Regions from separate parts of the Homo sapiens genome. Here region 1 is linked to region 2. Evidence: fine-mapped expression QTL. A gene starts in region 2. The other region holds a variant in brackets. All regions are shown on one strand. Distances are between the middles of the regions. Region 1 overlaps TEK (TEK receptor tyrosine kinase). Region 2 holds the start of TEK (TEK receptor tyrosine kinase).

Evidence for each region. PIP is the estimated chance that this variant, and not a neighbour inherited with it, causes the effect.
Region 1: its variant is fine-mapped to the expression of TEK in whole blood (INTERVAL, PIP 0.94).

The regions. Positions count from the first base shown.
Region 1 is chr9:27,187,576-27,191,977 of GRCh38, forward strand. It overlaps TEK (TEK receptor tyrosine kinase), which reads left to right. Exons shown (of 23, transcript NM_000459.5): 10 at 2,954-3,115. Among named protein-coding and RNA genes, the nearest start is that of TEK, 81 kb to the left of the region's middle. The variant G/T (reference allele first, on the strand shown) is at 2,676.
Region 2 is chr9:27,106,571-27,110,972 of GRCh38, forward strand. TEK (TEK receptor tyrosine kinase) reads left to right here and starts at 2,655. Exons shown (of 23, transcript NM_000459.5): 1 at 2,655-3,072. The coding sequence starts at 3,021.

The DNA of each region.
Region 1 (4,402 bases), 81 kb after region 2:
CTAATCACAAATTGTAGTATATTCATATGTATTAGTTTGCTAGGGTGCCATAACAAAATACTACAGGCTGAGTGGCTTAAGCAACAGGAATTTATTTTCTCATAATTCTGGAGGCTACAAGTCCAAGATGAAGGCATCAGCAGAGTTTATTTCTTCTGCGGCTTCTCTCCTTGGCTTGTAGATGGCCACTGTCTCCCTGTATCTTCACAGGGAGATTAAATTAGGACACAGGTACAGGGTCTTCCCTTTGTACTTGTGTCCTAATTTAATCCTCTTACAAGGACACCAGTCATATTGGATTATGGCAAACCCTAATAAACTTATTCTAAATTAATTACTTCTTTAAAGGCCTTATGTCCAGATACGGTTACATCCTGAGGTACTAGGGGTTAAGACTTTAATGTGTGATTTGGGGGGAATACAATTTAGCCCATAAAATCATGCAGAGGAATGTTAAACAGTAATAAAAAAGAATTAATTTCCGCAACAGTATGGATGAATCTTGCAAACATGATAACCAGTGAAAGAAAGTACATGCTTTATGATTCCATTTATATAAAGCTAAAGAACAGGCAATACTAATCTTCAGTCACAGAAGTCAGAATAGAGGCTACCTCTGGGTAGAGGATATTGACTGGAAAAGGGCACACAGGTGCCTTCTGGAGGGCTGGGAATATTTTCTATCTTAATCTGAGTGGTGGTTACATGGGTGTACACATAGGTAAAGTCCCTTGAGCTAAATACACTTAAGATATTCACGCTTTACAATATGTATGTTCCATCTCAGTAAAAATGATTAAAAGGCAAAAAATAAAATAGTAGATTACTAAGAGGAAGCCTTTGTAGCAATTTTTAAACCCTTGTAGAAGTATCACAGACTGACATTAATGGCTGTAATAAAATGTGCATCTGCTGGTTTAAAGAAAGGGGTGGCCTTATTTTATCATACAAGGAAAGCATTACTTGAACAAATTTACTTACAGCACTGCCCTCCTTTCTAGCCTAAGTGAAATGTGTACTCAGACTTATCTAACTTAATATTGGCATGATCTGCCTCCAGTTAGGGGATACTGCTTCTTACTGGCTTTATTATCCTGACCTTGGACAACTTCCTAAGTCGTCACTTAGTCAATAGAATTTACTTTAGGCCTATTATGTTTCAGCCCCTGTTCTAGGCACTGGGAATAGAGCAGTGAATAATACAGGGGGAAAAAGACTCACCATGGAGCTTACATTCCCACAGGGAGATAAACAGTGAGCAAATAAATAAGTAGAATGTACAGTTCACGAAAATGCTGAGTGTCTTGGAGAAAATTAAAGCAGAAATGGGGGTAGAGAATGCTGGGGCAGGGCTGGAGTGGTGACTGTAATTTTAAATAGGGTAATCAAGCCTTCCTGAGAAGATATTTGAGCAAAGACTTGAAGGTTATGTCTAAGGAAGGTGAGCCAAAGCATTGAGACAGAAAGAAAAGGAAAAATTACTGAACATTGCAATGTCCTCTGAAATCTGAAAGGTTCTGCATTGTATAATACACACTCTTGGGGAGGAAAAACAAAACGAGTTATGCATTTCTAAGAAGGCTGGGCCAAGGGAACTATAGAGCTCATTGGAAATTCACTTCACAAACAATAACTCAGCACCTAGTCGGTGCTGGTGAACAAACTACACAGTCTTTGCCCTAATGGAATTTAGAGTGTAGTGTGGTGTTTCACAACCTTTTTATTATCATCCCACTAAGGAGCTCTTTTAGAAATTGTATTCCAGAACTCTCCCTCATCACCATAAGATTTTATTATCACAGATGTACTTTATATCTCTTTATGTACTATGGCTCTTTGGCGGGCTGCAACCCATTGTAATATCTAAAATTTTTGCATCCTCCAAGAACCAATTTTCATTGTTTCTGGGGCGCTGTCATCCCCATTGAGAAGATGTGGTCTTTGAGATGGGGAGATTGTTCTAGATTATCTGAGTGGACCCATTCCAATCCCTTGAGTCATTCAAAGTAGAGAAACTTTCCTGACAATAGTCAGAGATGTGGTGGTCAGAGAAGGATCAGAGAGGCCTGATGTTGTAGACTTTGAAGGGATAGGAAGGAGCCTTGAGCCAAGGAATGCAGGCAGTCTCTAGAAGCTAGAAAGAACAAGGAAACAGATGGTCTCCTAAGCCTCCAGAAAGGAACACAGCCTTGCTAATGCCTTAATTTTAGCACAGTGAGATGCATGTCTGACTTCTGACTTCTAGAACTATAATAAATTTGAGTTGTTTGGCTGAAAGAGAGAGATATATATATATAGAGAGAGAATGAATTATGATCTAGAAGAAAGACCAATATCAAATAATCAAATAATCATACTACAAAGAGTAATAACCCCTAAAAATCACCATGAAGGAAAAGTAGAGGTTCTGTGAAAGTATACAATACCTTAATTCAGTTTCTATGATAGCCACCTGTGAAATATTCACATCAGAGCTAAGAATTAACTGGGAGAATAATGGGAGGTGGAGCATTCCTTGCAGAAGAGAGACATCCACAATCAATCTAAAGAAAGGAGGTTCGTGCTTTGTTAGTTGGATGAAGTGAAAGGTCAGTGGGACTGGAGGGTACTAGGTGAGGGGAAGAGGAGGCTGGAGAGTGGGCAGGGGCTTAATCACTCAAGGCCTGGCTGGTCAC[G/T]ATATGAATTTTTGGTTTTATCCTACATGTGATGAGAATCCATTGAAGGGTCTTGAGCAAAGGGGCACATTTATTTTAAGGAAGCACTTTGAGGATAATGGGTTGGGGAAGCAAAAGCAAAGCAGAGAGCTTAGAGAGCAGGTGATCTCACTGAGTCTGAGCAGAAAACTTTAAGAGGACTTTGTTGGACATGTAAAACATATCTTCTACCTCTACCTAAGAACAATCACAAAACCTCAAAGCCGAAGGACTAATCTGCCTTCTGAAATTGTATTTAGTTCTTCCAAAGCCCCTGAATGCCCCAAACGTGATTGACACTGGACATAACTTTGCTGTCATCAACATCAGCTCTGAGCCTTACTTTGGGGATGGACCAATCAAATCCAAGAAGCTTCTATACAAACCCGTTAATCACTATGAGGCTTGGCAACATATTCAAGGTAAGCTTTGGACAGGATAGATGCCAGCTGGGGATGTGGCACCAGGAGAATTATTTTTCTCCAAATCTAGAAATTCCCTTCTCCCTGCCTCAATCCTCTACCTCAAGGTGGTGGCTGTTGCAGAGGATTCTGTTTCAGAGTATTCAAGAGAGAGTGCAGGGGGCCCCTGAGCTCTGGGGCTAACTTTCTGAAGTCACTGTGCGCTCTAGAACACAGAACCAGCTCACACCATGAGTTACTATCTATATCAATATTTCTTTTTGGATCTCCAGTCCTGTTTTTAGTTATTCTATCTTGGCTGGTCATGGGGAAAGGCACTTGTTTATGCCATGAATATGGTAGCAGGAAAGTCCAGAGCCTGCTGGAAGGGCAGAGAGGCTTAATCTGCCTAAATCCTGGGGGTGATTGTTGCTGCTGTATTGAGTTGTTTATTCCTTTTCTCATTTCATGTCTTGCCCTGTCCTGCAGACTCTTAACACAGAGAGATTTTTGAAGGAATTTGAACCTGCAAAGTTTGGGCTGTGGCAGACTGGAATGGGCTCGGGGGAGGACAAGGACAGGCAAAGGGAGCTACAGACCCCTCCCCTAACTTCCTGAAAGAAAAAAATAATTGAACAAAATGTGACAAAATGCCAAAAGTTCATGAAAACAGTTGAATTTATTTTGAAACACAAATTACAATTATATTTGTTGTATGATAATGTAAAATCACAATTTTAAAAAGCAAAGAGCATTATCAGTGACCATGCTGCTTCAATTGGACTATTCTGTAAAAAGACCTGCCACTAACATGCTTGTAGGCAGCATGTCCTCCTCCGCCCATACCTTTGTCTTACTATGCCTATGATTTCCTTAAAATGACCCTCTATTCACTATATGGAGATAATTAAGAAAACTATGGAAAAAAAAAAAGAGAAGAGGAGGAGGGTTTTGGGCTGAATAACACTAGCTGACCTGGGTAGACCGAATAAAATGGTATTATTACTGAGTCCTTCACATACTATTGTAGATTCTATCAAAATTCAGAATTCCAGGGATGTCAGGCTGATTTGCTGAATTGCTGTTTCCAACATCAATGGCTAGGTCTTTTGCTGTCATATGGTGGTAATAATCCATCACCTTTGTCTACAAGTGGACATCCACAAAGTGGTCTTCTAAGAACTGTTAAACACATCCCAGTTTTTTTTCTTACCAAGTAGGAATTTATCATATGATAAGGCAGAAATTTATCTTTGCAGTATCCATGGAGAAACAGAGGCTGACTAAAGCAAATAGGTAAGGAGAAAA
Region 2 (4,402 bases):
TCAACTATGCTTCTATAATGTCCTTATACACAAATTTGGGGGCACATATTTGATTTTGGCTTGGTGTATATCATAAAAATGGATTTTCTGGTGGGGCGCAGTGGCTTACACCTGTAATCCCAGCACTTTGGGAGGCCAAGGGGGGGGGGGGGTGGATCATGAGGTTAGGAGTTCAAGACCATCCTGGCCAATATGGTGAAACCCCATCTCTACTAAAAAGTATAAAAATTAGCCGGGTGTGGTGGTGCACGCCTGTAATTCCAGCTACTCAGGAGGCTGAGGCAGGAGAATCGCTTGAACCCAGGAGGCGGACGTTGCAGTGAGCCGAGATAGTGCCACTGCACTCCAGCCTGGGCGACAGAGTGAGACTCTATTTCAAAAAAAAAAAAAACTGGATTTTCTGGGCCAAAGGGTATGCATACAAGGCTTTTGCTTTGTGTTTGTGATGTTGACCTCTTGACATGTGATACCAGTGTATAGTAGTATTATGTAAGTTATTTTCCACCTCTTTCAGAAAAACCGTTTTGTTATCTATTGATACCTTTGTTAATTAGTCTCAAAGACTTTTAATGTTGTCTATAGTGTTTTTCATGTATTGAGTGCAAAAAGCAGGAAATAGAAAATGAAGAATCAGCCAAGAGCCTTGTTTGTTTGTTTAGTTTGGTTTGGTTTTCTTTATGCTTTTACTGTAGGTATGTCTGGAAAAATCAAATTAAATGGAATGAGCTTGACTCATGAGGAGGCCCCTTTCATTTTCCTGAAGTGAATTAATACAGCACCCACCGATCCTGACATTAGTTATTTCAGAAGCACACTAAGAACTGACCGCACTTCTCAGTGTCACCAAACTATTCTTATCTGTCAAAGTTTCATTTCAAATACTTCTGTAAGGTCTAGGTGTACCCTGCTGGTGTTTGTGATGTCCTACATTACTCTTGATCTACTTTTCAACTATGAAACAAGGGAAAAATTGGAGGTCCAGAGCTCAGGATTCAGATATTATTACCTCTGCTACTCACAGCAGAGCAAGTAACTTAGCCTGTGTGGAACTTCATTTTTCTTTCTTTTTTTTCTTTTTTTTTTTTTTTTTTTTAGACAGAGTCTTGCTCTGTCACCCAGGCTGGAGTGCAGTGGCACGATCTCGGCTCACTGCAACCTCTGCCTCCCAGGTTCAAACAATTCTCCTGCCTCAGCCTCCAGAGTAGCTGGGGTTACAGGTGCACGCCAGCAAGCACAGCTAAATTTTGTATTTTTAGTAGAGATGGGGTTTTGCCATGTTGGCCAGGCTGGTCTCAAACTCCTGACCTCAGGTGATCCACTCCCAAAGTGCTGGGATTATAGGCGTGAGCCACTGTGCCAGGCCCACTGTTTTTGTTTTTTTTTTTCGTGATGACAAATTTAAAGTCATCTCATAGGAATAGAAAATAGCTTTTTAGTAGAAGCTCTTGGAATTTAAATTGAGACTGAATGGAAAGATGAAAGAAAATAAACTTATTAACATTTAATGAGAACCTTCAAAGAACTAGGCATAGTACCAAATGGTTTTATATTTTTAAACCTCATTTATTCCTCTCAAAACACCTGGGAAGGAGATATTTTTGCCATTTCACAGCTGTTGAAACTGAGGCTCAAAAAGACTAAGTAACTTTTCTCAGCTACACATGTGGCTGAGCCAGTATTTGAACCCAGTTCTGTTTGCAGACAGAACCTGGGCTTTTTCACACCTGCAAACTGGAAACATTAATTGGTTCTTAAGATCATCATCGATGTGATAAAACCTGGGACAGAAATTAGTCAAGACTAGCTGCATCTGCCTTTTCCTCTGGTGGGTAGGAAAAGGAGGAGTATAATGATTTCCTCAGGCATGAAGGTCGATGATGAGCAAAGTGTATACTCTCTAATCTAATGTCATAATTCATATTGTGGAGTAATTATCTGGATAAGTGTAGGGTCTCTGACCTCATTCTAGATATTGTACATTCCATGGCTATTTTCATTTTGGTCCATGAACTCTCTTTGCTCTCATGAGCACCATTTTTATCCCAATCTAATCCTGTATGTTTGTGTTTTTACACAGATTAGTTTTTAAATGTTATATATAATTTGCTTCTGAAACACCATTGCTCAATGACTACCAAATCTTTCTCATTACCAAAATCCTTCTATGCCAACTTCTTCAAGAAATTTGATCACCTTTAGATGAATTGTTAATGAAAATTAAAGCTATAGCCGGCAACATGGGTATCTTTGGGCTAATGGCCAACCAACAGGCCATCTGTGTGAAAGAAAACAGGCTAACAATTTTGGACTCTGGTCTCTTGGGGCTACATTGAGCATTGACCTCACCGGTGCTCACTGAAATTAATTGCTTTTCAGGTTGTATTTTCTCATCACGGAAACCTTCTTCTCCCAATTCAAACCATGTGGGTTAAAATGAGAAAACAAAAGCCAAAACGGCTTCCCACACCCAAAAGCTCCTTCTGTCAGAGATCCCAGTAGCCCCGGGAGAGCTGTTAGAAGTCTGAGAAGGATTGGTCATCATCGCATACCATACATAGGTGGAGGGCTTGTTATTCTCAGTTTCCCGCCTATGAGAGGATACCCCTATTGTTTCTGAAAATGCTGACCGGGACCCACACTTCCAACAAAAATTCCTCTGCCCCTACAGCAGCAGCAAAAGCAGCAGCAGAAGCAACAGCAACAGATAAGTGTTTTGATGAATTGCGAGATGGATAGGGCTTGAGTGCCCCCAGCCCTGCTGATACCAAATGCCTTTAAGATACAGCCTTTCCCATCCTAATCTACAAAGGAAACAGGAAAAAGGAACTTAAAACTCCCTGTGCTCAGACAGAAATGAGACTGTTACAGCCTGCTTCTGTGCTGTTCCTTCTTGCCTCTAACTTGTAAACAAGACGTAGTAGGACGATGCTAATGGAAAGTCACAAACCGCTGGGTTTTTGAAAGGATCCTTGGGACCTCATGCACATTTGTGGAAACTGGATGGAGAGATTTGGGGAAGCATGGACTCTTTAGCCAGCTTAGTTCTCTGTGGAGTCAGCTTGCTCCTTTCTGGTAAGGTTTGGCTTTATTTTTTTTAATTTAGTATTTTAAAAAACAGAGTTAGTGATTTCTGGGTGCTCTCCCCAAATCTCATCAGTGCTGATGAACAAGGGGTGGCTGTAGCAAAGGCACCATTTCTCTGTGAGTCTCCAGTCAATATGTGTGGAAGGATTGAAATGCAAAGGCTCTGTGGCATGAACTGATTTTGCTAGTTTGTCTTCTGGGTGATTGGCCCCTGTGTTAGAAACTCTTTGAGGACCGATTAAATCATCTTATTTGAAGAGATCCCCTTACTATCATGCATTATTTTCCTGCTCCTCATTCTGGAGTGTTTTTCTTATTGATTTTTTTTTTAAAGAACAAACCGGTTTTACCTGCTTTAAAGAAAATCTTCAGTAAAAAATGAAATTCATGCTGAGAAATACAGGGGCCCAATTAAGGCAGTGTATAGATTGTCACTGTTAAAAGGGAACAAAGATGCTTTTCTGTAAAAAGATTTTATATCTACATCCTATTTTAAGCAAAGCAATGAAATTGTAGGCTTTTTTTTTTTTCTTGTAGTTAGGGTCAGGGAGATTGGGGCTATTAGAATTTTTGTTTTATTTTAAAAAATGTTTGCCATGTAGTAATTCATAAAGGGTTTACTGGCCCAATGAAACAAAAATTTAGGCAGTTACCAAAATCTTTAACACAGGAGAGTATATGAAGCCTGTTGTAGAGTGAAGGAGTGGTTGGCCAGTGTGTTGGGTTCAGCGTGTTTATTGCTTAGATACTCCAGATAGTGGTGTGCCTCTGTAGCTCACTCAGCCTATGTGACATAGGTAGAAGGCAGTATCCAAACCTGAACTACATATCACAAATACATTTATCATTGCCATCAGTCTCTCCCCTTCGGTTTGAAAACATTCTAATTTTAATAACGAAAATCGAATTGATATTGGAGATGAATTTGGGAAAATTCACTAAACTTCATGGATATAGGGCATATTAATATAATTTGATTCGAGTATACATAAGTATCTGCTATATTTTCTAGGTGTTTGAACTATTTTATTAAATATTCAAAAAACAAATCCAATGAAATAACTGAGTTGAATACAGTTTGTTTTATAGCTCTCAACAACCAATATTTTGAGAATTTAATAATATTCTTTAAGAATGTGTAACACAAGTTGCTAAAAATTAAAAGATTTTAGGTGGCTTCAGTATTTATGTGGAAATTGTTTAAATAATGTTGACTTCTCCAATAATATGTACTTCAAATAATTATCATGATTCCATTTTTGATTTTTTTTTTTCTGAGTGCCATTATTTACCAGTGACATGAAATCTGGAACTTACT